7 linked regions of the Homo sapiens genome follow. The protein of the gene in region 3 interacts with the protein of the main gene of each other region in a pairwise test. Each region holds a gene or a part of one and is shown on either strand. Other genes may lie near its edges.

Region 1 (4,102 bases), on a different chromosome or scaffold from region 3:
GAACAATTTCTAATGCTTAAGCCAGCAGCAATTGCCACTGCAGGCTATGGCTATCTGTTTAACTCCTCGAGGGTGGGACCTTGTGTCTCTTCAGGCTCTGAGCCAGACTGCCAGGGTTCCCATTCAGGCCCTGCCTCACTTAGCTGTGACTGGGCAAGTGCCTCCCTGCTGGGCTTTCTAACTAAATGGGGGCTTCCCTTGGGGAGTCTGAGGATGACTGCAGTGTGTCCCAGTTCTGCTGGGTCACTCCTCTCCCCATAGTGGCGACGGGATCAACCTGCAGGGCTTCTGAAGTTGGACTTGCCTGTAGTTTATCCCTTGTCATTGTGTGATCTTGGGTAAGAAGATTAACCTCTCTGAGCCTCCATTTCCTGTATAAAAGGGGGCAGTGGCATCTCTTTGGCTAGGTTGGTGTGGGGATCAGAGGTGTGGTCTCTGAGCAAAGGTAGCCGATTTATGAGGGGTGATGATGGTGAAGAAGCTATGAGAATATTTATTCATTTAGCCTTGTCACAGAGCAAACTCCCACGCCCACATTTGGGGTCCTTCTTTAGCTAACGATGAAACTAATGATCAGAGCAGTGGCCACCATTGTGGTGGGCTGAGAGGTATGAGGGACCAGGCTAGGTCAGTGGAACTGTGTTGAGGACCAGCTCCCACCCTACTGACAGTGTGACGTTGGGCAAGTCGCTTAGCCCCTGTACTCACTTCTTTTGTCTGGATAAGGGGAATGAGGGCCACGTAAGGAAATATCAGCACTTAACCTCCCGCTTCTGCCTCGGGTTATCTCATCTTTGCTGCACGGGCACCACACAGGGTGAGGTCTACGTGAACACCGCAGAGGGAGCCAAGTCTCAGGACACTGGGGGACTCAGAAGTGGGGCTCCCTGACTCCGGGCCTCAGATGTTGCCCCACGGAGCACACTGACCCTTGTAACGGAAAATGACCTTCCAACAGGGATGGCATGAGAATAAATCAGAAAGCCTTCTTGGTGCTTTTGTTTTTTTTTTTTTTTTGACAGAGTTTCTTTCTTGTTGCCCAGGCTGGAGTGCAATGGCACAATTTTGGCTCACTGCAACATCCGCCTCCTGGGTTCAAGTGATTCTCCTGCCTCAGCCTCCCAAGTAGCTGGGATTACAGGCACCTGCCACCATGCCTGGCTAATTTTTTTGTATTTTTAGTAGAGACAGGGTTTCACCATGTTAACCAGGCTGGTCTCAAACTCCTGACCTCACCTCAGGTGATTTGCCCGCCTCGGCCTCCCAACGTGCTGGGAGTACAGGCGTGAGCCACCGCACCTGGCCCCTTCTTGGTGCTTTTAATGGAAGCACGTCACCGTCATGTCCGTAGTGGCCATTGGTGTTGCTGTAAGTGGAGGCTCAGACAGTGACCCCAGGGCTGGCCACTGGTGGGACCACAGCATCCTGACTCTAGCCCTGGATGCCTTCAGAAAGTATTTTCTTTGCTCATTCTTTTCTGAGGCCAGGTGGACTGTGCAGGGGGCTGTGGATCAGCAGGGAGGGGCAGGGACAGGGAAGGAGCTGTGGGGGCCTCATGCTGTGAAGGGCTGGGTTAGGAAGCCCTGTAGGAGGTGGGACGCAGGAGCGCTTGCAGGGAGTGGCCACAGTCACTATTAGATGCAAAAATAATCACGGTTTTTGCCATTACTTTTGCACCAACCTCATACTGGAAAGTAGAGGAGAAAGGGCCCGTGGTGAAAGCACCTAGAGGCAGTTCAGAGTGTGGGAGGGGCAGCTCCCCAGTGGGGCCGGGGGCATCCCTCCTGCCTTTGATGTTAGTATTGGTTTTCAGAACTGCAACCCGAAGTGTTATGCCTTTCATAAGTCTGTAGAGGTGAATGGACAGAAAGGCTGTTTTTCTTCATTATAACAGTTAACATGTGTGAATGGCACTTAGCAAGTGCCAGGATCTATGCCAGGGGCTTTTGTAAATAAAGTTTTATTAGAACACAGCCACGCCCATTTGTGTATGTATGGTCTGTGGCTGCATTTGTGCCAGACTGGCAGAACTGAGCAGCTGGGGGAGACATCTGGGAAGCCAAAGACATTTACTCCCTGGCCTTTTCCAGGAGGAGTTTGCCTCCCGCTGGTCTGTGCTGTCCCTGGTCTGACTGAACCCATTCAGTCCCAGAGGGAGGCGCACACCTGCATTTCTATTTTATAGATGCGCATAGAGGGGCTCTGAAGCTCGCCAGGGATTATAAAGCGAGTATGTTCCAGAGCAGGGATTTGAAGCCAAGAAGCCCATGTTCTTTTGTGGGGGAGGGGACAGGAGCAGGGAGATTTATATTTTTATTAGCTTCTAATTTAATTTTACCATGTTAAGAGAATGTGTGTGATATCTATTTTCAAAAATTTGTTGACAATTCCTTGATGGCCTAGCACCTGATCATTTTTTAAAATATTTTTTCATCATGGTTAATGTACTAAATATATTAAAATATTTAATCATGGTTAATATATTAACCATTTCTAAGTGTGCAATTCAGTGGCATGAAGTACATCCACACTGTTGAGCAACGAGCGCTACCATCCACCTCTAGAACTCTCTATCATCCTCACCTGCAGCCCACATTCTTCACTGATGCCATGTGCTGTCTTGTGGGAGTTTTGTGGAATAAAACAAATGTTAGTGGCATCACAATTTAGCAGAGAAGGCTTTGACATCAGACTTATGTTTGAGCACCGGCTCTGCCATTTACCGGCTATTCTTGTCCCATTGTCTGCAGCCCCCTGAACCCTCTGCAACTCAGGTTCCTCATTTGGGAAATGGGGATCACCCCAGTCTGGTCCCTGCACATCCCTCGGTTGTGAGGATGAGACTAAAGAACGGAGGTGAAAGGCCTAGTCTAGGATCACGCCGTGGACAGCAGCTGCAGTGGCGGGTCCCTTTGTTGGGCACCACCGCCCACTTGTGTTAGGTCAGCCTGTTCCCCTCTGTGTGGTCTGAGGTGGCCCCTTTATCCTTTCCAGGGCTTGCAAGCATCCTCAGGACCCACTGCACATCCTAAAACTCCCAACTGGCCTGGGAGGACCTGGGTACAGGCTGCCTGCTCTCCTGTCTCCCACCGTGGCTTAGACTGGCTGAAGGGCCACTTTAAGGAATGAAAGGGGTTCTGTGTGCACCAGCCAGGGACTGCCAGTGGGTGCTCATTGTGGCAGAAATACCCTTATGCCTGCCAGGTCAGAGGGAGGCGCTGGCTCGGTGTGCTGGCCTCTGAGCTTCTCCCTTGGCTGCATTTTGAGTCAGGAGCCTGGACTGACCCGGGTCCCTCCACAGCACTGGAGGGGGTGGGACACATCACTACAGGGTTTCCTTCCATGAGGACTCTGAGGAGTTGACAGTGGAGGCAAGGAGTGAGCTGGTAAGTAGCTTTCCACTATCTTTTACCCTTGGAGCTTCTGTCTCCTGTCTTCTCTCACCCTATCCTGTTGCATCTGGTGGCTGGTCACCCCTCTCTGCTTGTTCTGACATGGGACTGTATTGAATGAGATCACAACCTGTGTCTTCCATTGAAGCAATTCTTTTTCCCCTTCTTTTTCTTAAAAAAATTGAGGTGAAATTCATTTACTGTAAACCGTTTTCAATGGTACAATTCGGTGGCATTTACTGCATTCACGATGTTGTGCAACTGTCACCTCAATCTAGCTGCAAAACATTTTCCTCCCTCCGGAACAAACCCTGTGCCCATGGGCAGTCATTCCTCACTTCCCCTCTCCCAGCCCCGGCATCCATCCATCTGCCCTCTGTCTCCTTGGATTTGCCTGTTCTGGATATTTCACAGATGTAGAACCAGATCGTATGTGGCTGGCTTCTTCCACTTAGCCTGATATTTTCAGGGTTCACCCATGTTATAGCAAGTGTCATCAAGTGTCATTGCTTCCTTCTTCTTCATGGCGGAGTAGTATTCCATGGTGCGTATACAACACAATGGTCTATTCATCTGTGGATGGACATTGGGGTCGTTCTCACCTTTGCGGCTGGTGTTGGAAGCAGTGCTCAGGGTGTTAACATTTTCTTCCCAGGGCTTTGGCTGCTCAGGTCCTATTCTGCAGGCTCTTCCACCCTCTCCTCCCCTGC
Region 2 (4,180 bases), on a different chromosome or scaffold from region 3:
TTTCAGCTATTCCAGGTGTTAACAAGTTGTGTTCTCTGGTTTTTAAAATTCATCATTTAATGAAATATATGTAATGAAATACAGCAGTGAAAATAATAAACTGGAGGTACACGCAAGAGCTTGGGTGAATTTTTCTTTTCTGTAAGTAAAAACATTTTTAACTGATGTATGATAACTCTGCATATTTATGGGATACATGTGATATTCTGATACATGCACACGCACACACGATGTAATGATCAAGTCGGGGTATTTAGGATCTCCACCACCTCAAGCATTTATCATTTCTTTTTTTGGGGAACATTTCCTATCTTTTAGCTATTTTGAAATATACAATAAATAATTACCTATAGTCCCTCTACGGTGCTATCAAACACTAGAACTTAATCCTTCTATGCAACTATATGTTTGTCCCCATTAACCTCCCCACCCTCCCCACCTTTCCCAGCGTCTGGTAACCATCATTCTGCTCTACCTCCAAAAGATCAACGTTTTTAGTTTCCACATGAGTGCCAATATGCTTTTCCCAGGTGCAGAGGCTGCTGATTCCTGGATTTGGAAGGTGGGGGAGAGTGGTTTGGATTTCAGTACCTCCCCCTTCCTCAGGGCTAGGCCCTGTCTGGTCACCTCCTGTTGCTACAGGTGTGCCTGGCACAGACATTCAGCTCCCGGGGCCGTGCCGCCCTCACCCCTGCATGCCTCTAGAGGTACCTGTCCCGTGGATTTGACCCCCTTCCAGACACACAAATAGATCACCACTGAGCAGACACAGGGTCACCTCCCAGCTCCCTACCAGGCAAGAGCGACCAGGGCAGGGACTGATACTGCCGAACCCAGGAGCCAGGCCCGACCCAGCCTCAGGTCCAGCAGGTCCCGCCTGTCCACCTGGGCCAGGCCTAGAGCCCGGGAGCCCCTGGCTGGTGGGAGGCCACCCGCAACCCACCCCACACGCAGCTCCAGCTCCCCCACCAGGCGGGGCGACTAGGACAGGGACAGAACCCGTTGAACCCAGGAGTGAGATCCGGCCCCGGGTCCCGCTGGGCCCTCCCGTCCACCTTGGCTGGACCTGGCGCCTGGGAGACCTTGGCTGGCGCGAGGCCACGCCCACCAGACATGCAGTTCCAGCTACCCCACCAGCTGGGCGACCAGGACAGGGACGGAGGCTGCTGAGCCCAGTTAGAGGCCTGCCCCCCGGGGTCTGTCCTGGGCGCTCCCCCAAGGACGGACAGGGCAGGCAGGGTCCGGGACGATGGCCGCACAGTCCCGGCCCCGTGTTCCCAGGCCCGTCTTGCTCCTCGATGTGAGGGAGACCCGGGGGATGGGACAGGCTGGGCCCCGCAGTGCCTGACTCCCTGCAGGGCTCCCGGGACAGGGGTCCGGCGGACAGCCGGCTGCTCAGGGGTGAGGGGTCCAAGCTGGCATTGCGGCCACCTTCCGGCCCGGGCTCTCTTGGGGAGGGGCGGGGTTGGTGAGAACCGGTCACGTGCTCCGGGGCTCACTCGGGGTCTCCCAGGGCCGGAAGTAGGGCCCCTGTGCGCAGGCGCCCTGAGGATCCCGGGCTGCCCATCTCACGCCAGGGGGCGGAACTTCCTGCAGCCTCTCTGCCTCCGCATCCTCGTGGGCCCTGACCTTCTCTCTGAGAGCCGGGCAGAGGCTCCGGAGCCATGCAGGCCGAAGGCCGGGGCACAGGGGGTTCGACGGGCGATGCTGATGGCCCAGGAGGCCCTGGCATTCCTGATGGCCCAGGGGGCAATGCTGGCGGCCCAGGAGAGGCGGGTGCCACGGGCGGCAGAGGTCCCCGGGGCGCAGGGGCAGCAAGGGCCTCGGGGCCGGGAGGAGGCGCCCCGCGGGGTCCGCATGGCGGCGCGGCTTCAGGGCTGAATGGATGCTGCAGATGCGGGGCCAGGGGGCCGGAGAGCCGCCTGCTTGAGTTGTATTCTGTTCTGTTCTGTTCTGTTCTGTTCTGACAGTTCTGGTGGCGAGGTGGGGGCCGGGAGATGGGGAGGGCAGGGCCAGGTGGGGGAGGAGGCGGGGGAGATGCGAGTAAGTGGTTGGGTGGGGGTGGGGGTGGGGGTTGGGAGGTGGGGATATGAGAGGCCAGCTGCGAGGAGGGGAGGAGGTAAGGGCTGGGAGGTAGAGGGGGTGGGGGTGGGGGAGAGGGGCTGGGTGATTGGGTGAGGGGCACCGGGTCATGCGGGGAGGGGAGCAGGGGCCAGGAGATAGGGGGACCCAGGTGTAGGAGGGGATCAGGAGGTGGGGGGAAGGGGGCAAGATGGGAGCGGGTGGCGGGAGGTGGTTGGGATGGAGGGTCGAGTGATGAGGAGGGGGCCGGGTGATGCCACAGGGGGCAGGGTGGGGAGGGGTCTTGTAAGGGCATGGAGGAGTCAGCTTGGGGTGCAGCAAAGGAAAGTGGGGAACCAAGACAGCTGGGTGGGGTGTGCTACTGGGCCAGTGCCTGGGGAGACAGCCTGGGGGGGATGGGCTGGGCAATCCGGGGTAGGGGGGAGGGGTGGGGGAGTGGGGGAGGGGGAAGCTGGCCTGGGGTAAGCAGCAGGCCGGAGCCACAGGCCAAGTCCTAGGAGAGGATGCCTTAACTGGGCCCCCACCAGCTACCTCGCCATGCCTTTCGCGACACCCATGGAAGCAGAGCTGGCCCGCAGGAGCCTGGCCCAGGATGCCCCACCGCTTCCCGTGCCAGGGGTGCTTCTGAAGGAGTTCACTGTGTCCGGCAACATACTGACTATGTCAGTTCAGGACCAGGACAGGGATGGGGCCTGGGTGGGTGGCGGTCACAGCGTGGCAGGGTGGGGGCTGGGATCCGCCTACACCCCACGGTCAGGCTGCTAGAAACCTGGGAACACCCCAGCACAGGGTCTCAGAACAGAGACCTGGTACACCAGGCCCGCCGCCACCCGAGGGAGCCCAGGGAGATGGGTGCAGAGGTGTCGCCTTTAACGTGATGTTCTCTGCCCCTCACATTTAGCCGACTGACTGCTGCAGACCACCGCCAACTGCAGCTCTCCATCAGCTCCTGTCTCCAGCAGCTTTCCCTGTTGATGTGGATCACGCAGTGCTTTCTGCCCGTGTTTTTGGCTCAGCCTCCCTCAGGGCAGAGGCGCTAAGCCCAGCCTGGCGCCCCTTCCTAGGTCATGCCTCCTCCCCTAGGGAATGGTCCCAGCACGAGTGGCCAGTTCATTGTGGGGGCCTGATTGTTTGTCGCTGGAGGAGGACGGCTTACATGTTTGTTTCTGTAGAAAATAAAACTGAGCTACGATTCCGTGTCTGAGTCTCTTTTCGGCGAGCGAAGGCACCTTCGGACTTGCATGCCCTTGTCCTCGGGTTGCAGGGGAGGCTCTGGGATTCACAGATTGAAGTAGCACAAGGTAACGGGAGGCAATTTGGGAAATGGGGGAAAATGAAAAGCCACTGGGTCCCGCCATTCAGCATTAACTACTGTGGACATTTTAGAATATTTTCCTCAATATACTTGCATTTATATGTTAAATATATGACAGTAGCATATATAATGTTTTTCCAGGTCAGCATTAAATTTTTTCCCAAATTGTTTTCATTGAACATATGAGCTTTTTTACTTGGGAAAAATTCTTTGAAAACGTACTTGAATAGATGCATAGAACCAGCATTATCATATCACTGTTAAGCATGTGATATGGGTTGGGCATGGTGGCCCACACCTGTATTTCCAGCACTGTGGGAGGCTTGAAGCGGGAGGATGGCTTGAGACCTGCAGTTGGAGGCCACCCTGGGCAATGTAGCGAGATTCTGTCTGTAGAAAAATCATTAAAAGGCCGGGTGCGGTGGCTCATGCCTGTAATCCCAGCACTTTGGGAGGCCGAGGCGGGCGGATCACCTGAGGTCAGGAGTTGGAGACCAGCCTGGCCAACATAGTGAAACTCCATCTCTACTAAAAATACACACACAAAAAAACAACAACAAAAAAACATTAGCCAGGCGTGGTGGTGTGTGCCTGTGATCCCAGCTACTTGGGAGGCTGAGGCAGGAGAATCACGTGAACCTGGAAGGTGGAGGTTGCAGTGAGCCGAGATGGTGCCACTGCACCCCAGCCTGGGCAACAGAACAAGACTCTGTCTCAAAAAAAAAAAAAAAAAAGAAAGAAAAGAAAAGAAAAAATTAGCAGGGTGTGGTGGTGTGTGCCTGT
Region 3 (4,102 bases):
GTATAAGCATTCCAATAATAAGGCCATGACTACGGGGGCAATTGCTGCAATGCTGTCTACAATCCTGTATTCAAGGCGCTTCTTTCCATACTATGTTTACAACATCATCGGTGGACTTGATGAAGAAGGTAGAATTCCTTCTTTCTGGAAAATGGTGGGGGGGAGGAGTTATTATTCCCTAGATGTGTGTATCCATCTAGAGTTGAAAAGAACCATAAATACCATCTGACACAATTCTCATTTCATTTCTGATAATGAAAGTGATGAAGAAACTGAAGCTAATGTATGACCTCCAAAGGCACATTGAAGCTCTAATAGTGAATGTTGAGCAGCCAGTTATTTTGCTATTTTCTCAGGAACTTGCATGAGTTAGTAGTAAATAATTAGGCATTTTTATCTTATAGAAAGAAATCGGACCTAGAAAGCTTGACCTAAATGTGATTCTGAGTATTGAAAATTTTTTTATTAACAAATACACTTCAAAAAAGTTCTTTAACGGTTCTAGAAGTCATTTGGGGTAATTAATAATAAGCATCTACTCCAGTGTTTTCAGAACTTTTTGAAACACCTCTCTGATTTTGTCAGAGTCAGACCAGGATTCCCTGAGAATATTAAGTCTTGTTACTTAATATTCCATCCCATTTTTGTTCCAGAGCTGCATTACGCCACATGGGCACCAATGTTTTCCATCCAAATGTTCCAATCCATTTGTTCTCATTTGCAATCCAAATGTTCTCATTTGGATTGGCTTTTGGTTGCATCTAAAAATCAAATACAAGTACAGTGTCCCAGGACAGATCTTTGTCACTTAGAGTAGTCCATTGACACAGATGGATAAGTAGTCCATCTGTGTCATTTAGAGTAGTCCATTGAGATAAGAAGTTACAGAAGTGTCTAGATGAGGATATCATTGGAGTAAGCCCATCTTCTGTGTTCCTTCTGGCTGAACCTGTGGCTGAAGTTGCCCTAAAAGTAGGGGCAGAGGAATTCCTGTAAGGGACTGCCCCGAACCTAGTTGGGGTTCCAGAACACTAAATCTCAGGGTAATCAGTCAAAAGCATTTAGTGCTGCAGCAGTCCTCTCAGCAGACAGCAGGAAAAGATGTGTCCAAGGTGAGGGAGTTGATTTGAGTGTTGAAGGAATTTGGTTCAGGGCCAGGGATAGTTTCTGTGTGTTTAGCAACAGGGGTAATTTCTCAGTGTTTCAAGCAATAGCCTAAACAACATTGTCAGCGCCTGGGAATGTTCAAGGCAGGCCTTGGCTTGGGTCAGAGCCTCCAGGGGAATACATGCGGCTGGCCACATCACAGAACATCTCAGTTGGACACAGAAAGAAAGCAAGGGGACTGGGGACCCTAAATCCTGTGAGGGAAAATTCTAAGAGGAAAGGGTCAAGCTTCATTTCAGCGCCCTGCCTCTCGGTTGTTGACTCCTATCGCTTTCTGTTCCATGAGCGTTTTCTTTGCGTGCGCTATCTCTGACTCTTAACATCCGCCCCCATACACAGCCTTGGGGAACATTCTGATCATTTTACCTGCCATGGTTTAGGCGTAGACAAATTAGGTTGACACAATTTCTTTTTAAGGCTTTCAACCTTACTTGAAAACCAAGAGAAAAAGTAAAGTGTAGAAATAGTAAAAATAGAAATGAATTACCTTTAACATGGGTAATTAGAGTCTAGCTACAAATTAATTTGCCTAACTTAGCAAGCTGGATGCTTCTGGTGTCTTTTTTGACTTACATTATGCCTGGCTTTAATGTCAGATTAATAGATTCAGATTTTAGCAACATTAAAAATAGCTGAGCTGCCATTGAATTTCAGCAGGCCAGACAGCATCCTTTGAGTTTTTCCGAGAGTTAGAGAGTCTAATCTGGGAAAGCTGATACCTACTAAGCAGCAGACCTAAGATTCAGGTTTGGCTTTTGTTTCACTTCAGAGCCCTGTTCTTTGATTTCCATGTAACAGTGTTGCTAGTTTTGGTGACAACCTCAGGTGTCTCTAGAACTGTCTTTCTAAGCTTGTCTGTCTGGTTGGCTTTTAAGTGTTCTTTAAACTAATTTTTATTTTATAGAGGAATTTGTGTGAATAATAAAGCAGTCCTCTATCTTTTTTTTCCATTGCCCTAAGACAGTTTTCAGCTCTTTTACCTGTATTTCCTGGTACTTACCTCCATTTTCCAAAACTCTGTATTTGTACTGCACTCTTTTGAGATATCTTTTGGTGTTTTGTTCTGGTAGATGATGGTTCTTAGCTCTTTTGTGTCCTCTTCCTCATTAGCATCCTCCTTTAACACATTACACTTTTGGTAACATAGACCTTTAATGTTTTTATTATGACCAGATAGATATTGATCTTTGTTGCGCCAAGTAGCATGCATTAATATTTTCTTTCTTGTGTAACTCGTTTTTATTTTTTTCTTAAGTTAACTATCTCTAATTGGCTCAGATTTCTTTAAACTTTTTGTCAGTTCCTTGTACATTCTCTGAGTACAATTCATCTGGTTGTCAGACCTCACATACTAGGTGGATCCCTTTTCCCCTTGCTCCAGGATGGACCACTGCCATCCTGAGATTCCCCCACATCCTGTGTTCTCCTCTTTCTTGATTTATTTCCTTATTTTAGAGGCTTACCTCCTAAAAGATTTCTGAAAAAAACAAAACGGGACCTTTTTGAGACTTTGCTTTTAGGATCTTTTCTTTACCCTGGTGTTCTGAAATTGTATAGTGATGTTCCTTGCCTAGAGTTTCTTATTTGTTTTATCCTCTTTCTCCACCTTCTTTCCTCTCCTCCTCCCCTACCCCTCTGCACCTTCTCCACAACCACCTGGATTATGACCCGGTACTTTATTTTTGACTCCCCATGTTATCCATGTCTGTCTTTTTTGTTCTACTTTATGAAGATTTCCTTAATTTTAGCTTTTCATCCTTTACTGATTGCTTTTATTTCTGGTGTCATTAATTTCCAAGAGCTTGTACTTATTTTTTGTCTTTTTAAAAAAAATCCTGTTTACTTTCTTTGCAGTTTTCTGTATTTCATCAGAATGTTTTTTTTTTCATGTTATGTGTTCATTTTTGGCCTCTGTCTTCTATGTTAGAGGCTTCCTTCAAATCTCTGATTTTTTTTTTTTTTTTTTTTTTTTTGCTGTCCATTCACATTGAAGAGTCTTGTACCAAAATTTGATTATGAAAGTCCTTGTTGACATGGCTTGTCAACTGACAGCCGTTAACTGGGTGCTTAAGTAAGCAGCATTTTCTTCAGATGAAGAATTTCTTTAATCTTTTTTCCTGAGGTGAGGTGGGACTACAGGAAGAGAAGCCCGGTTGGCAGCTTTTTAGGCCTCAGAGGAGGAAGGGGGCTGAAGGTCTGTGTTTTGTTTACATCAACTTTCCATTTCATGTGTTTTGCTCCTACCCTTTGCCACTCTAGAGCCTGGTCCCCTAAGTCCAGAGCCTCTGCTAATGTCTCAGGAGACTTCCTTTACTGTCTTCTGTGTTGGTGGATGCAGGGACCTGGAGAGCAGTGCTCCATATTGAAACCTTCAGGACAGCAAGGTCCACAGCTCTTTCCCTTGGTGTCAACCGCTGTCTGCACTAACCTCTCTGTCTTTAATCTCTTAGCTGCTCTCATGCCTTTTAAAAATTTTTCTCCCAAATTAAAAGTGGCTTTAGTTTTTCTGTAGTGAAAACAATCAGTACATGTTTATACATACACTCATGCAGTTTTATGTAAGTAGGACTTTGGTATCTGTTTTTCTGTAACTATACATTATGTATTATCAAGGAGATCTAAGCTATATGCATAATGATTTTTGTATTTAATTAACAAAAAATTTTTTTGTCTTCTGTTTTTGCTGCTGTAATACATAGCATCATTTACCTAACCAGTCCTCTAAAGGGCATTTTGGCTTCCTGTTTTCTTAATATAAACACTATGATGAACATCCTTGTACATACATTTTTGTGTACTTCCCCAATTATGCTTGTCTTGCTAGAATAAACTTCGAGTAGTTGAAGTATTGGGTCAGATAAATTTTTTTTTGTATTTTGTTGAGTATACTCTTTCTGAAGGATACGCCAGTACCCTGAGTACCCGATTTTATATA
Region 4 (4,801 bases), on a different chromosome or scaffold from region 3:
TCACAGTGTATCCCCTGGCCCCAGCCCTTTGTGGATAAAGGCTCTGCCCATGTGGGGGTTCAGGAAAGGCCTCCTGGAGAGGGTGGCGCCTATGTGGCTGCTTGGATCCACCAGGTGAACAGTGGGAAGAAGCCCAGCCAAGAGCAGAGAGGTGCCCTGGACACAAGCCTTGGCTGGCTGGGTGTCCACGTCAGCTGAGGGCTCCCAGCTGATGCTCAGAAGCCCAGCCCGGCATGGGACGGAGAAGCTGAACGGGGCTGGGCCCCTGGGCCTCCTTTTACCCACTGTGGCCCTGGGCACTCAGCCAGCAATCCTCCTTCACCTCGCCTCAGTCCACTTGTTTATGATGAGCTTTGTCCTTATGTATGATGGCATGGCACTGGATGCCTCTGGCCCCTCTCACCTCCCCACAGCCTTGGTCCTGAGCCATCACTGGCCCAGGGGGCCTGGGAGAAAATCCAGGGAGTCTGTGGGAAGGGGCTGGGAGGATCCGAGGTGGCAGGAGATACAGCTGCTGACGCTGTGTGCTGGTGCAAAGTGTCCACCACCCACGTTTCTCGGCTGCAGTGGCCGAAGCAGCCTCCTGGTGGCTTTCTGTCCCTTTCCACCTCATTTGCTTCAGAGCCTTGACACACTGGCTGTCCTGCGTGTGTGCTGACTGTAGTCTGTCTACACTGCCACCAAGCAGGGCTGCAGGGTGGGGTCCAGCCTGTCCCATCTGCTGCCGTGGGGTGATCTTGCCCAGGCCCAGAGCAGGGCCCAGAGGCTGCAGCTGCACAGTGAATGTTGAATCAATGAGAGGATTTCATTACTGAAGAGCTTAGAAAATGTCAAAGGCTTGGGCCGGCACGGTGGCTCACGCCTGTAATCCCAGCACTTTGGGAGGCCGAGGCAGGTGGATCACGAGGTCAGGAGATTGAGACCATCCTGGCTAACAAGGTGAAACCCCATCTCTACTAAAAATACAAAAAAATAAGCCGGGCGTGGTGGCGGTCGCCTATAGTCCCAGCTACTTGGGAGGCTGAGGCAGGAGAATGGCGTGAACCCGGGAGACGGAGCTTGCAGCGAGCCCAGATGGCGCCACTGCACTCCAGCCTGGGCGACAGAGCGAGACTCCGTCTCAAAAAAAAGAAAAAAGAAAATGTCAAAGGCTTCAAAAGAAAATAACATATGTAACATGCAGCTTTAGATTGGATGATGAAAAAACCGCACTCAGATCTTCAAGCCTTGTTTTCCTTGTGTCATTAAAAGTGACGAGTACCCCCTCCCCGACTGTCCCCTCCGTCGGTCTCAGGCCCCTGGCCCTGGCCTGCTCTCCGTGACCTGGGTCTCCGCCCCTAGTGCTTCCCCGCAGCTCCACCGTCTGTGGTCGGCGGGGCCTCAGTGACCGCACGCTCTGGACCAGCCCCGCAACCCGCTTCGCTACCCCTCCCCTCCGGAAAACCAACATGTGCTCCTCGCACGCGCGACCGGGACCCCTCCCCGCTCCTCCGGCCTCTCCGAGCGCGAGTACCCCGCCGGCCCCGCCCCTTACGGCCCCGCCCCCAGTTTCTCTCAGCCAATGGGCAGTGAGGGGCGGCATAGCCCTTTCGGGCCAATAAGCAGCGAGAGGCGGGGTTCCCGCGCCTTGCGAACTTGTAGAGTGCGGACAAAAAGCCGGCCGGAGTGTGCCGTCCCAGTAACCAATCGGCGAGGGTGGGGACGGGGAGGCGAGTCCTATTGGAGGGCGGGGGTGGGGCCTAGATCTGTGGGCGGGGCGCGGCCTGTGGATGGGCGGTGAGCGCAGCGGCGTCCGAGGCAACAAGATGGCAGCTGCGGAGCCGTCTCCGCGGCGCGTGGGCTTCGTGGGCGCGGGCCGCATGGCGGGGGCCATCGCGCAGGGCCTCATCAGAGCAGGTGGGGCGGCGCGGGGCTAGGCCTGCGGTCTGGAGTGGGAGCAGCCCCGTGGGAGGTGTCCTGCCGCGAGAGTGGGGCCGGGGGCGCGGGCCCAGCCAACCGGGTCTCCGCTCCGCTGGGCGCAGCCGGGGCCACGCCTGTTTGCTCTTACTTTTTTGACGTGGCTGCGGGAAGATTTGAGTCACACGTGGCTAGGTGCCGCTTCCGTGGCCGGCTTCCTGGCCGCGTGGCCTTGGCCAGGCTCACCTCTTCCAGCCTCTGATTTTCTCTTTGCGCGCCAGCCCCTCTCATGGGGAGCAGCAGGGCTTCTCCCCCAGACACCTTGGCTCTAGGGACACCTGGGCCAGACTATCCATCCTGTGCCAGCAGCACCCCCACGTTGTGACAGCCAAAAATGCCTCCAGACACTGCCGAATGTCCCCTGGGTGGGGGGAGGAGACAGGCAAAATCATCCCCTGTTGAGAAACACTGCTTTATACCCGGAATATTTATGCTGACCATATACTCCTCCAGGCATTTAGAAGCCTCTCTGCAGATTGTGGATAGGGAGAGCTGGGTGACTTTTGACTCTCTGCCTTCAGCCATACTTCAGGGTCCAGAAGAGTCAAGATCAATCGGGAAATAGCTTACTATGAGTCTCAGGAGTCTTCCCTGTGAAACCTGGCAGTACCGCATGCCTCCCAGAGCTGTACAGGTTAAATGAGACATAAATGTCTAGTGTTGAGCTTAGTACTGGTGTGTTTGGCTGCCACTGTCATGATTAATTGCTGTGTTCAGGTTGTGGTGTACACTTGTGCCTTCCTGTTCGACCTTACCAAAATCTAACCCAATCTTTCCACCCCGTACCCGACAAAAGCAGATAATTTCTACCAAGTAGGCATTTAGCCTTTTCTTAGACATTCCAGCATAGACTCTCCCTCTCGAAGAACCTGGGCCCCGATTGGGCCTTCTGTGGCCAATCAACTGCCTTTGTACCCACCACATTCCCCCAAGGCCTGGTGTTCCTCCAGAGGTACTGCCTCTTCTGCTCCAGGCAGCCTTCCCTTCCCTGGAGGCAGAGGCCCCAGGGATCTGTGTCCTCACCAATGAGGTAAGCTCCTGGCCTCCATACCCAGCAGCAGTCAGGGGCGTTGACCGCCAAGTAGAATCAGTGGATCTGATTGCCTGGGCCCAGTGAATGGTGCATCCCGCTTTGGGTTCCTGGGGCCAGGAGGGGGCCCAGGATGGGCCAGGCGTGGCTGAGCCTGAGAGGCCAAGTGAGCTCCCTCTCCTCTCCGTGCCATCCTATCCCACCCCTTCACCAACCCCTCTTCCTTTTCCTTTCTTTCCAGGAAAAGTGGAAGCTCAGCACATACTGGCCAGTGCACCAACAGACAGGAACCTATGTCACTTTCAAGTGAGCATAGAGCCCAGGTTCTTCATACCCTCAGGAGCCCAGGATAGCTCTTGGCTCCTGTCCCACTAAGACACTTATCAGAGCCAGGGATGGGTGGTTTATTTAGCTGAAGTTTGCAGACTGGCTGGTCTGGGCTGGGAAAAGGGAGATTAGAGGCCAGGAGGAAAGTAAGGTTGTGGAGGGCCAAAGCAAAGTGTTTGTGTGTGTGTGTGTATGCATGTGTGAGTGCATGTCCGTGAGTGTGTGTATATGCACGTGTGTATATGTGAGGCTATGCGTGTGCATGTGTGTATGTATGTGCTCATGTGCGTTTGCACGTGCGCTTGTGTGTGCGTGTGCACGTGTGGTGAGTGCATGTATGTCAGTGCATGTGTGTGCGTGTGTGTATGAGTGCATGCTCATGAGTGCATGTGCACCTGTGTGGTCGTGAGTGCACGTATGTGCTTGTGCATGTGTGCCTGTGCAGATGTGTATATGAGTGCGTGTGTGCGTGTATGAGTGCGTGCGTGTACACATGAGTGCATGCTCGAGTGGGTGTGTGTGCATGTGTTTGTGCTCATGAGTGCATTCATGTGTACATGTGTATGTATGCTCGTGAGTGCATGTGTCTGCGTGTGTGTATATGAATGCATGCTCGTGAGTGCGTGCATGTGCATGGGTGTGTTTGCATGCTGGGTGGTGGTCACAGACATTCACTGGGGATGGAGGGCTCAGGGCTTGGGGAGGCGCTGACATCAGGATGGCCTGTGAGGAGTAGGGCTAGTCTGGGGGAGTCTTGGGCACTGGAGAAGTCGGGGTGGTCTAGACACTTGCAATGGGAGAGGCCCTGGGACCATGGGAACGTGTGGCATCCAGCAGGAAGGGCTGTGATGGAGAGGGTGCGCCGCTTACATGGCCCCTGAGGCTTGGTCCTGGTGTCCCTGGCGCAGGCTCTGGGTTGCCGGACCACGCACTCCAACCAGGAGGTGCTGCAGAGCTGCCTGCTCGTCATCTTTGCCACCAAGCCTCATGTGCTGCCAGCTGTCCTGGCAGAGGTGGCTCCTGTGGTCACCACTGAACACATCTTGGTGTCCGTGGCTGCTGGGGTGTCTCTGAGCACCCTGGAGGAGGTGAGTGTCCCTTGGGCTAAGGCCTTGGTCCCAGTATAGGCTCTGCTGGCCAGGCTTGGGCGGCAGGCAGCCCCCCAGAGAGCCTGAGAGGTGGCCGTGTGGCCCACCTGGATCAAGTGGCTGGATTTAGGGTTCCCTCCTGGTGCTGTACCTGGGAGGCAGACGCTGGAGCCCACCGCGAGCTGACGTGGACCTTTCCTGAGGCCCCTGCTGGGGCCTGCCCAGCAGGGCCCAGTCCTACAGACTCCCTGATTCTGACCTCTCTCTGGCCAGCTGCTGCCCCCAAACACACGGGTGCTGCGGGTCTTGCCCAACCTGCCCTGTGTGGTCCAGGAAGGGGCCATAGTGATGGCGCGGGGCCGCCACGTGGGGAGCAGCGAGACCAAGCTCCTGCAGCATC
Region 5 (3,161 bases), on a different chromosome or scaffold from region 3:
ATTCCATGGTGTATATGTGCCACATTTTCTTAATCCAGTCTATCATTGTTGGACATTTGGGTTGGTTCCAAGTCTTTGCTATTGTGAATAGTGCCGCAATAAACATACGTGTGCATGTGTCTTTATAGCAGCATGATTTATAGACCTTTGGGTATATACCCAGTAATGGGATGGCTGGGTCAAATGTTATTTCTAGTTCTAGATCGACAGGGAGCATTTTCTAAGTGTAGACAACATACCATTTCAAGTGCTTTTGATGGCAACTATTATTTCAAAGAATAAACACTTCATTTTTAGTACTAGTTATATGTATAATCAGAGGTGAAGAAAGTGGAGAAAATAAACCCATCTATCAAAAAAGGATAAAAAATAATATGTGATTTTAGTAGTTGGCTTCCCTTTATTGATCAAATCTTAGGAACTCTTAAAGATAGAGTTTCATAACTAAGTCTATTTAGTTCCAATTCTTCCAACAACATGAGGGGTTCAAATCTCCCCAGAGCTGAGTTCTATAAACAGTAGGAAAGGAGAAATGAACCAAAATGGAATCTTGTCACTAAGGAAAAGAGAAAAGAAAACATGTTTTAGCATTCAACAGCTAAGAAATATTCCTGTTTTATAATCAGCTTTGAGAAACGCCAACAATTGCAGTATATCTGGGTTAAATACGGGACATTTCCAGGGAGTTTTTTAAATTGAAATATCAATATAAAAATAAAAAATGGTTAGGCATCACCCTATCCTGGCTATATAGTCTGAAATCAGAATAAAATTTGGTTAAAGTCAACCATTACGGGTTTAAACTGATTGATGAATTCAAGAGCATAAAAGAGAAGTGAAATAAATAACCAGGACAAAAATATTTATGCTGAAGGAAATAGATTTATTAAGAGACTGACAGAAAATCCCCTTACTACCCACACCCAATTTGTAATACATTAATGTTGATGTAGAAGCTAATAATACATGAGCAGAGCAACCATGGGAGGCAAACTACTTTTTCACTGTTAAAATTCAAGTATGACCAAAAAAATGCATCTTGCTTCCTTTGTCTGTAGATGAGTATCAGTTCAGCACCTGAGTCCTGGGTGACTTGTCCAACAGCATCAAAGACAAAGACCACAGCAAGAAGTCAGCAAGAAGATGGAAGATGTATCACCCAAGCACATGGGAAGGTAGGAAGACAGTCATTGCTCTTCAGGTTGTTCTGTGCAGAGAATTAATTGAGAGTCCTGTAGTCACTGGAGCCATTGGTCCATCAGTAGGTGCTGTAGCCAAAGCCAGAGCCAGAGCCCCATGGCCTATAGAAGCTACCACCATAGCAGCCGCCCAGGTTGTTGATGTTGCTACCACCAAAGCTGTAGCCCAGGGAGCTGTAGCCATTGCATCCACAGCCATAGTTCAGGGGAGAGCCCAGAGGCACAACACAGTTCAAGGGGGTGGCTCTGAAGGTCCCATGGAAGTTGGTCCCATAGATAGGGTATCCTGGGAAGTAGCTTCCACAGCAGAAGTAACGAGTCATGGTGGCAGCAATTGAGAAGGATTTAGATGGATTGTGAAGGGTAAGTTACCCAAGTGTTAATGAAGGTCTCTTCCCGTACAGGGCTTTTTATACCTCAAGCTGGTGGGCACAACACATCTGTCTAAACATCTTCCCACTAATTTGCATAGGTAATCTCATTCTTTTCTAATAAAATGCTTATAAGGAATGCACAGACTCATTGCCCACATTTTTGTTGGCTTTTCTCTGTACTATTTTAAAGCCAGTGACCATGCTTGACACGCAATCGAATTCTTTTCATCAGAGTCCCATAGTTTAACTACTGTTCTTGATTGCATCATGTGAGACTCTTTAAATCCTCTGATTATAAACTCTTCCCAACTGACATAGCTAAACTAAAAAAGCTTTGGCAAGAATGCAAACACTTCAAGCCAAGACAAAGCCATATATTGAGGTCTTTTGAACATTATTTTGAAACATCAAACTGAAATTCTATAACCTCTTGAAATTCACCCATGTGCCCTTTTAAAACAATTGTATACCAACTAGTTAATGGGTACAGAGTTTCCTTTTGGAGTGAAGAAAATCATTTGGAACTAGACAATGTTGCAAAACATTTGGAATGTACTAAATATCACTGAATTGTTACCTTTAAAATGCCTTGGTTTGTGTTATACAAATTTTAACTCAAAATGTATTTTTTATTTTAAAAAGCACTGCTACACAAATCTATCCAACCAGGTGTTTTTACAGAGGCTGCAATGGTGCCAAATAATAAGTTGGCTGTGAATAACCTGCAAGTAATTTTCATCAATTTCATTTATGAGCATTCTGTTTGTTAATACATATTTTATTTTTTCATGGAGAACATACCATGTTTGCTTGTAAATCATCTTGAACATTGCCAAACTGTCTTTCTGGAGTTGCCACACTGGCGCTGAGTGGGATGATGCTCAATTTCAGAGTCATGTTATACCACACTTGCTTCTTACTGACTCCTATAAAACAAGCCTGAATGCCATGATCCATTATGAAATACCAGTTATATTTAAGGATGCAACACTTCCTTCTGCTCTTATTTTGCCTTACATAACCAATTCTCATGAAGAACGTAAACCAGGAAGGATCTGAGCTCAGCAAAGCTAAGTCTATTCCAATTCAAAGGTTTACGACATCATCTTTTTATATGTGAATCAAAGTCAGAATTCTCTGAAAGTAGAAGAAAAAACTTCCTGAATACCAATTCCTTTTTTTATTTCCATCTTAACAGACAATCACAGAGTCCAATATGCAAAACTAATCATTCCTCTCAGACATCCCTCTCTCTTTAAGATTCTATCTCTCTCAGTTTCTCTGACAGAGAGCTGCCTAAAGAATGTTCTATAAGTGGATATGATTTCTTTTATTCTACAAATTAATTAAATGTCATAAGAGTATATAGAGAAAGTTAAAGAAAAATAAGTTATAATTTCAAATTCAGTTTAACAAAAAGAATGAATTAAAATGGTAAGAGGTTGTGTCCTCAGGGTTTAAATTATATAAACTCTGTATCAGATAATCCAGAAAACTCAAAAATACGTTTGTGATTAGGAGAGGGCAGGGGTGACTAAGAATTACGCGTGACTTGAAAAATTTCACTACTGATTCTATCACACAATGA
Region 6 (4,102 bases), on a different chromosome or scaffold from region 3:
ATGAGCCCATGAGCCAGTGGAGGAGGAGATTCAAGTTCCGGGGAAGGAATGCGTGCCTTCAGCGAGTGTTTAACTGAGTGCTTATGACATGTCAGACTCTTTCTAGGTGCTGGGGACACAGTAGTGAGCAAAAGAGTAGAACAACTGAACTCTCATGGAGCCGAGAGTCTAGCGGGAGGGACAGAAAAGATGCAAGGAAACAGGATCCTTTTGGGGGTGTCTATCCAGGGGGGTGGGAGAAACAGGAAGCAGGGCAGGAGAGGAGGGAGCAGGGGCTGCTTTAGACAGGGCAGTCAGGGGAGGCTTCCTGGAGGAGGTGGGCCTCTGTGAATAGGGCAAGTCCTGGGTTTCCGGAGGGAAGGGGGCCCTGCAGAAGTGAGGGCAAGTGGGTGTGGCTGGAGCCAAGTGATGGGGAAGGCCGGTTGTCTCTCTGTAGAGCCCGCGGAGCTGAGCAGCGGGGAGACGGAAGAGTTACAGAGGATCAAGTGGCACCGAAAGCAGCTCCTGGAGGACATCCAGGTGAGTGCACACTCGTGTCCACACACGTGTCCATGCCCACACTCCTGCACGCTTGTACGCACCCCACCAGCTCCTGACCCAGCCTGGTCAACAGACAGTGTGGCCAACTCTGGCTCATATCAGCCTCGGCCCCAGCCCCAGGAGCAGGGAGAACAACAAGACTGCAGACACCCCGAGACCCAGGGAGAACTGGGAGAGCCGGGGAGGGAGGCAGCGATCCAATTAGGCGCCCACCGTGTGCCGATCCTCATCCTGGCCTTTACTTGCTTTGTCACAGGGCAGGCTCTGACCCCTGTGGTGAAGCTTCAGCCAGGTCTCACCCCTGCAGAGTGTAGACCACCTGGTCAAGATAACTCCCAGTATGTGCCCTGCACTTACCACTTCACCAATCAGACTCAGACGTCAGCTCATCTGGGTCAGCAGCTTCTGAGACAGGCTGGGTTCTGTTCCTGGAACGTGCCTTGCTCAGCACTGCCCCTGGGCCTTTGCACTCGCAGTCCCCTCTGCCTGGGCTGCAGTGGCTGTGCCCACCCCCACTCCCATGCACATAAACTTAGGATTTCAGTGAGGAAATGAAGGCACAAAATTATTCACTCAGCTGCTGTTTCATTGAGCACCTACTATATGCCAGGATTTCTCTACCTTGCTCTGATGGTGTTCTGCATAGTCATTCCAATTACCCTATGACCACCCATGATCCCAGCCCCACCAGACTGTGCCCTCCATGAACACAGAGCCGAGGTCTGTCTTGCCCACCACTGCATCCCCAGCCCGCTGGGTGCAGCATTAATAGGTGCTCAGTTAATACTTGCAAATGAATCCCCATTGTATTTGTGGGGCAACCACTCAGTGGCTCTGCCAAGATGGCATGAACAGGAGCTGACACGGCTCAGACACAGGCTCCCAAGTCCCATGCTGGCCCTGAGTCTCAGGACAAGTCCCTGGAACCAGCCCCTCACCAGCACCCTGCAGATCCTGGGGAGAAAGGGGCTGGGTGCCTAATGGGGGTGCCGGCCAGAGGCTCATGCTGGTGTCCTTCAGGGGGTGCTGGTGGTTGGCAGGGGGAGGTGTTAGGGGGTCCCCTCTGCCACTGGGTGCCTCCTGCAGGGTCAAGATGAAATGGGCTTGGGGTCGAGTTGGGGGAAGCACAGGTTTGGAGTCAGACTGCGGGCGTGTCGTGTCATCTCTCTACGCCTCAGTGTCCTCTTCTGTAAAGTCCAGGGGAATTGCAAAGTCCCTGGAAAGAGGGCCTAGGCTGCCTGTGCGTGGTGTCCCCGTAGTACCTGGCAGGCACATAGCGGGCACTTAGTCAAGGGTGAGCAACATAGTAAATGGAGGAAAGCCAGAGAGAAGCTGAGGAAGCAGTAGGGAGCCATGGGAGGGGTTTGAGCAGGGGAAGGGCAGGCTCCATGCAGTGCTCCAGAAAGACACCAGCCGGGAGAGGCAGGCAGGGTGGAGGCGGGCAGGGTGGAGGTGGGCTGGGGGAGGTGGGCAGGGTGGAGGCGGGCGGGGGGTGCAGGCAGGGTGGAGGTGGGCAGGGTGGAGGCGGGCAGGGTGGAGGTGGGCTGGGGGAGGTGGGCAGTGGGGAGGCCGGCTTGTCGGGTAGGCTCGGCTAGAGTGCAGGAGACTTCATGGCTGCAGAGAGGAGAGATGGGAAGGTTGGAAAAAGGATGGGCAAGGGATGGGGGCTTGGGGAATCCCACTCCCCAAGACAAGTGGAGGCATGGGTGCAGACAGAGGTGATAGTTTAGCATGCGACTTAGAAATTATGAGACATCCAGGGAGGGGACCTGTCCATGGAGGGTCCCTCAGACTGGGGACTCAGGACAGAGGTCAGGGAGAGGGGCCAGGTTTGAGAGTCGTGCCCAGGGGTAGGAGTGGTCCTTGTGGTCTCAAACCCCCGGGGTTCTGGCCTCCACCCCTGACTCTCCCTGTCCTGCCCCTGCCACCCCACAGAAGCTGAAGGATGAGATTGCAGATGTGTTTGCCCAAATCGACTGCTTCGAGAGTGCGGAGGAGAGGTGAGGGGCTTGGGTGGGGACCCCCAGAAACTGCCATGGTTGCTTCCCAAGGATGTCATACACCTTGAATGAGCAGGGGCCACTCCCAGCCCCCTGGACCTGGTGAAATCAGGGATTGGCCAGGGAGAAGGAGGCAGCAACGAGACCGGAACAGGGTGGCCCCGGCCCCATCCCGGGTCTGGTCCCTGCTCCCAGGCTGACCCTCTCTTGAGAGACACTGCGTCCTCCCCTCCCCCAACCCAAAGTCTCTCCTGACCCACTGTGGTCCAGCCCTGACCGATCACTGGCCACATCCACCCTGGGATGGGCGGGGAGAAGGGAAGCTCAGCCCCAAGGGCAAGGACAAGGAAGCCCAGGGCCCCAGGAGGACAGGAGCCTGGCCCTACCCCACCCCACTCACCACTAACCCCGGGCCAGCCACGCCCACCGCCTCTGTGGAAAACTCCCACTATTTTGTGATCTGGGACAGATCCTGTCCCTCTCTGGGTCTCAGTTTCCCCATCTGTGCAACAAGAAGGTTGGTTGCTACACAGTCTCCTAAGGCCCCAGTGCACTGACTCTGACACACGATGTCCTGGCAATTTCCCATCCTGCGCCCGCCACTCCTTAGGTCTCCACCTGTCCAGCCTCCTCCCCTCCCCCACCACACACATGCACACACACACACGCATGCACACACACACAAGCATGCACACACACACAAGCATGCACACACACACAAGCATGCACACACACGAGTGGCCGTTTCTCCAGCTCCCCTGTTCCAGCCACAACAATGACAACATAACACACCTACGCCTCACTGTTTTAGGTGCTTTAACCTCTCAACAATGCTGGGAGGCAGGTGGTGGTATCACCTCCATTTTATAGATGAGGAACCTGAGGCCCAGAGAGAGGAAGTGACTCGCCCAAAGCAGCCCGGCTCAGATTCGCATCCAGGAGCCTGGCTCCAGCACCTGCGTGCTCAGCCCTCGCCCCCTCCCCCGGTTTCTTGCACAGGGCCCCTCCACCTTCTCCCACACGGCAGCTCCGGGTTCCTGCAAGCTGCTAAATGCCCGTGCTGGGCCCATCAGAGAAGTCAGCTGCAGAGCTCTGGGAGGAGCCAGGCCTTGCACTGCTCTCTCCCGCCCAGGTGGTTCCCATGCAGGACCCGGAGGCCACACTTGGAGGGCCCTAGAGGGGTATGGGCTCCTGCTGAGGCAAGGGTCCTTGGGGAGTGGAGAGGGTAATTCAGGGTCCTGGGGCAGCCCAAGCTGACGTCCTCATGTCCACAGCCGGATGGCCCAGAAGGAGAAGGAGCTGTGTATTGGGCGCAAGAAGTTCAACATGGACCCCGCCAAGGTAGGTGGCTGTGGAGGGCCCGGGCCACAGGGTGTGGGGGCTGCATGGGAGCACCTGCCTGGTGTCCTCTCGCTCCCCTCGGCTGACACGACCCCTTTCCAGAGGAGGAAGCTGTGCCCAGCAGAGCTGAGCATCTTGTCCAGTGCCCCATGGCCAGCTGTGGCTGGGCGCCCTGTCTACTCCCAGGCATACACGCCTTGGGGCAGGAGGAGCCAGGAGCA
Region 7 (4,102 bases), on a different chromosome or scaffold from region 3:
GGAGTTTGAGACCAGCCTGGCAAACATGGTAAAACCCCATTTCTAATAAAAATACAAAAATTAGCAGGCTGTGGTGGAGCGCACCTGTGGTCCCATCTGCTTGGGAGGCAAGGCAGGAGAATCACTTGAACCTGGGAGGCGGAGGTTGCAATGAGCTGAGATCACACCACTGTGTTCCAACTTGGGTGACAGAGCAAGACTCTGTCTCAAAAAAAAAAAAAAAATTTATGCTGATGAAAAGGGGGAATTTTCTTGTGTTCCCATACTCTCCATATCCTTTTCCTTCATGTTTAGGATGCTATCATCAATAGATGTAATGACTGTAATTGCAGCAGCCATCCCGAATCCAAGAGGAAAAGGCCAAAGTTTCTACTTAATCAAAAAGAATGTCCTGACCTTTTATCCAACTCATTTTAAAGATTAAGAAATTAACCAAAATCCCATAATGCTTTTCAAATTTATGTTAAAAATATGTTACTAAAAGCTTACTGCCCTAACAAAAATGCAATTATTGCTTCTCTAGAACATTTACTTTTGTACTGATTTCTAAAAAAGATGTGGGATTACTAACAGCACACATTTACAGTTTTTTTTCCCACTTTAAAGTTAATTCTAAATAGAAATTGCTTAAGAATCTAGAAATTGGTGGCGCAGTGGCTCACACCTGTAATCCCAGCACTTTAGGTGGCCAAGGCAGGAGATCAAGACCATGCTGGCTAACACGGTAAAACCCCGTCTCTACTAAAAATACAAAAAAATTAGCCAGACATGGTGGCGGGCGCCTGTAGTCCCAGCTACTCGGGAGGCTGAGGCAGGACAATGGCGTGAACCTGGGAGGCGGAGCTTGCAGTGAGCCGAGATGGTGCCACTGCACTCCAGCTCCAGCCTGGGCGAAAGAGCAAGACTCCGTCTCAAAGAAAAAAAAAAAGAATCTAAAAATTGAGGCTGGGCATGGTGATTAATGCCTGTAATCTTAACATTTTGGGAAGCCCAGGCAGGAGAATCACTTGAACCCAGGAGGTGCAGGTTGCAGTGAGCTGAGATCATGCCATTGCACTTCCAGCCTGGGTGACAGAGTGAGACTCCGTCTTTAAAAAAAGAGAATGATCAATCCATCTCAGGATCTCAGGTATATATTTTGTGTTGGAAATTTGCAATGAAGAACAAATGGTATACCTAATGCACAGTGAGCAACCCATGGTAAAGGACTGGCTGATAAGTTTTATTGTTTAGTCAACCATAACTCAGCTAAAAACATCTATCTAAGCATAAGAAATGAGAAAAAGCGGCCGGGCGCGGTGGCTCATGCCTGTAATCCCAGCACCTTAGGAGGCCAAGGCGGGCGGATCACGAGGTCAAGGAGATCGAGACCATCCTGGCTAACACAGTGAAACCCCGTCTCTACTAAAAATACAAAAAATTAGCCAAGCGTGGTGGTGGGCGCCTGTAGTTCCAGCTACTTGGGAGGCTGAGGCAGGAGAATGGTGTGAACCCAGGGGGTGAAGCTTACAGTGAACCAAGATCACGTCACTGCACTCCAGCCTGGGCGCCACAGCAAGACTCCATCTCAAAAAAAAAAAAAAAAAAAAAGACATGAGAAAAAGGAAACCTTTTAGTTTTATGAAAGGAAAATAAGCTTTTGAGTTAAGACATGCTCAAATCTCAGCTCTTCCACCTCTTTGAGCCCTAGTTTTCTTAAACTATATTAAGAACTCAGTGATATAAGCATAATGCCTACATAAACTAGGTTGTCAATGCTTGTTTTTGTTTTTTAATGGTCAAGGAAAGACTTCTAAGGATGTTTCAGTTTCTTGTAATAAGTAAAAAAGCTTAAGTTAAAAGTGCAATTTATTAGGAAAATAATGAAATAGCCAATGTAATTCATGAGAAAGGATAACCAGTAGGGTAGTTTTTCTGACACTATGAGGCTACATGATCATTATTTTTACTTTTCTCTGTGTCTGCTTCATGTTTTACTGCAGAGAAGACTTCCCTGCAGCTACATGCATCACATGGGAAATAGCTATCCCATACATAGAGCTTTCACTTCCAAACTTCAACACTAGTACTATCTACACGTAACTGGTATTTCTGGGCCCTTGTTTCAAATTCCTAAGGTAGAAAACTGGTTGGCTTAGTTTGGGTCAGGTATCCATTTTTCTTTTTTTTTTTTTTTTTGAGACAGAGTCTCGCTCTGTTGCCAGGCTGGAGTGCAGTGGCGCGATCTTGGTTCACTGCAACCTCTGACTCCCCGGTTCAAGTGATTCTCCTGCCTCAGCCTCCCAAGTAGCTAGGATTACAGGCATGCGCCACCATGCCCAGCTAATTTTTTTTGTATTTTTAGTAGAGACGGGGTTTCCCATGTTGGCCAGGATGATCTCGATCTCCTGACCTCATGATCTGCCCACCTCGGCCTCCCAAAGTACTGGGGTTACAGGCGTGAGCTACCACGCCCAGCACCGTTTTTGGTTTTTAAGAGACAGGGTCTTGCTCTGCTCCCCATGCTAGAATACAGTGACACAATCATAGCTCACTGTAACCTTGAACTCCTGGGCTGTAGCTATCCTCCCACCTTAGCCTCCAGAGTAGCTAGGACTACAGGCATACACCACCATACACAGTTAATATTTTAAATTTTTTGTAGAGACAGAGTCTTGCTATGTTGCCTAGGCTGGTCTCAAACTCCTAAGCTCAAACAATCCTCCAACTCAGCCTTCCAAAGTGCTGAGATTACAGGCATGACCCACCATGCCTGGCCAGGTATTCATTCTTGATCCAGTACCTGGGAGTGGGAATCACACATGATACAAATCACACATGATACAAATATACAAGGCCCCACCTATTAGAGGGAGAGAGAGGCTGGGCACAAACCCAAAAGGTATCTACTGCAACATTATTTTGCAAAAGCTTGCCTTCTAGAATGTTCTTTTTATCTTTTATTTATTTTTATTTTTTCTGAGACAGAGTCTAGCTCTGTCACCCAGGCTGAAGTGCAGTGGCTTGATCTTGGCTCACTGCAACCTCCGCCTCCTGGGTTCAAGCAATTCTTCTGCCTCACCTCCCGAGTAGCTGCGACCACAGGCGTGTGCCACCACACTTGGCTTATTTTCGTATTTTAAATGGAGATGGGGTTCCACCATGTTGGCCAAGCTGGTCTCGAACTCCTGACCTCAGGTGAACCCCCGACCTCAGCCTCCCAAAGTGCTGGGATTACAGGCGTGAGCCACTGCACCCGGCCCATAAGGGAGCAGTTTGAGATGGGAGGCTTCACCATGTTGCCTAGGCTGGTCTCAAACACCAAGATTCAAGTGATCCTCCTGCCTCAGCCTCCTGGGTAGCTAGAATTACAGGCACACACCACCACATCTGGCAACAAGTTTCTTTAATGAAAGAATACCCTCTGAATTTTCCCATGGTATGACTTTTAAGATATGGTATGATAAGACATGGAAGATAATCATAATGTTATAAGATTATATTTTGGTCCCACTGCTTTTTTTTTTTTTTGTCACCCAAAGTGGAATGCAGTGGTATGATCACAGCAAAATGTAACCTTGAACTCCTGGGCTCAGGTGATCCTCCCACCTCAGCCTCCCAAGTAACTGGGACTATAGGGGCACGCCGCCACATCCAGCTAATTTTTTAAAATTTTGTATAAAAAAAAAACAGGAGTCTCACTATATTGCCCATGGAGGTCTTGAACTCCTGCCCTCAAGCAGTCCTCCCACCTTGGCCTCACAAAGCATTGGCATTACAGGCGCGAGCCATCACACCTGGCCCACTGCTATCTTTTTGTCAAAGACAGTGCCTGACTTTAGCATCTTTTTGGTACAAACACTTTGTCTTTTTTCTTTTTTTTTTTTTTGAGACAGAGTCTTGTTCTGTCACCCAGGCTGGAGTGTAGTGGTGCAATCTCAGCTCACTGTGCAACCTCCACCTCTCAGGTTGAAGCAATTCTCTTGCCGCAGCCTCCCAAGTAGCTGGGATTACAGGTGTGCACTAGCATGCCCAGCTACTTTTTTTTTTTTTTCCTTTGGACAGAATCTCACTATGTCTCCCAGGCTGGAGTGCAGTGGCGTGATCTCACAGTGGCGTGATC

What was found.
Region 1: the proteins of PSMB1 (region 3) and JAKMIP1 interact in binary tests that used the Homo sapiens proteins (3 or more experiments, as listed by UniProt).
Region 2: the proteins of PSMB1 (region 3) and CTAG1A interact in binary tests that used the Homo sapiens proteins (3 or more experiments, as listed by UniProt).
Region 4: the proteins of PSMB1 (region 3) and PYCR3 interact in binary tests that used the Homo sapiens proteins (3 or more experiments, as listed by UniProt).
Region 5: the proteins of PSMB1 (region 3) and KRTAP7-1 interact in binary tests that used the Homo sapiens proteins (3 or more experiments, as listed by UniProt).
Region 6: the proteins of PSMB1 (region 3) and CYTH4 interact in binary tests that used the Homo sapiens proteins (3 or more experiments, as listed by UniProt).
Region 7: the proteins of PSMB1 (region 3) and OIP5 interact in binary tests that used the Homo sapiens proteins (3 or more experiments, as listed by UniProt).

What each region holds. Positions count from the first base shown.
Region 1 is NC_000004.12:6,193,775-6,197,876, reverse strand, and holds part of JAKMIP1 (janus kinase and microtubule-interacting protein 1), read left to right. Parts: intron 1-3,257; exon of another isoform or gene 3,258-3,386; intron 3,387-4,102. UniProt on the Homo sapiens protein: Associates with microtubules and may play a role in the microtubule-dependent transport of the GABA-B receptor. May play a role in JAK1 signaling and regulate microtubule cytoskeleton rearrangements.
Region 2 is NC_000023.11:154,583,543-154,587,722, forward strand, and holds CTAG1A (cancer/testis antigen 1), read left to right. Parts: upstream 1-1,590; 5' UTR 1,591-1,664; coding exon 1,665-1,933; intron 1,934-2,609; coding exon 2,610-2,744; intron 2,745-2,983; coding exon 2,984-3,122; 3' UTR 3,123-3,274; downstream 3,275-4,180.
Region 3 is NC_000006.12:170,539,627-170,543,728, reverse strand, and holds part of PSMB1 (proteasome subunit beta type-1), read left to right. Parts: coding exon 1-128; intron 129-4,102. UniProt on the Homo sapiens protein: Non-catalytic component of the 20S core proteasome complex involved in the proteolytic degradation of most intracellular proteins. This complex plays numerous essential roles within the cell by associating with different regulatory particles.
Region 4 is NC_000008.11:143,606,553-143,611,353, reverse strand, and holds the start of PYCR3 (pyrroline-5-carboxylate reductase 3), read left to right. Parts: upstream 1-1,778; 5' UTR 1,779-1,805; coding exon 1,806-1,896; intron 1,897-2,477; exon of another isoform or gene 2,478-2,590; intron 2,591-3,227; coding exon 3,228-3,292; intron 3,293-4,221; coding exon 4,222-4,401; intron 4,402-4,674; coding exon 4,675-4,801.
Region 5 is NC_000021.9:30,828,177-30,831,337, forward strand, and holds KRTAP7-1 (keratin-associated protein 7-1), read right to left. Parts: upstream 1,584-3,161; 5' UTR 1,523-1,583; coding exon 1,259-1,522; 3' UTR 863-1,258; downstream 1-862. UniProt on the Homo sapiens protein: In the hair cortex, hair keratin intermediate filaments are embedded in an interfilamentous matrix, consisting of hair keratin-associated proteins (KRTAP), which are essential for the formation of a rigid and resistant hair shaft through their extensive disulfide bond cross-linking with abundant cysteine residues of hair keratins.
Region 6 is NC_000022.11:37,292,185-37,296,286, forward strand, and holds part of CYTH4 (cytohesin-4), read left to right. Parts: intron 1-417; exon of another isoform or gene 418-436; coding exon 437-519; intron 520-2,475; coding exon 2,476-2,540; intron 2,541-3,814; coding exon 3,815-3,881; intron 3,882-4,102. UniProt on the Homo sapiens protein: Promotes guanine-nucleotide exchange on ARF1 and ARF5. Promotes the activation of ARF factors through replacement of GDP with GTP.
Region 7 is NC_000015.10:41,315,221-41,319,322, forward strand, and holds part of OIP5 (protein Mis18-beta), read right to left. Parts: intron 1-4,102. UniProt on the Homo sapiens protein: Required for recruitment of CENPA to centromeres and normal chromosome segregation during mitosis.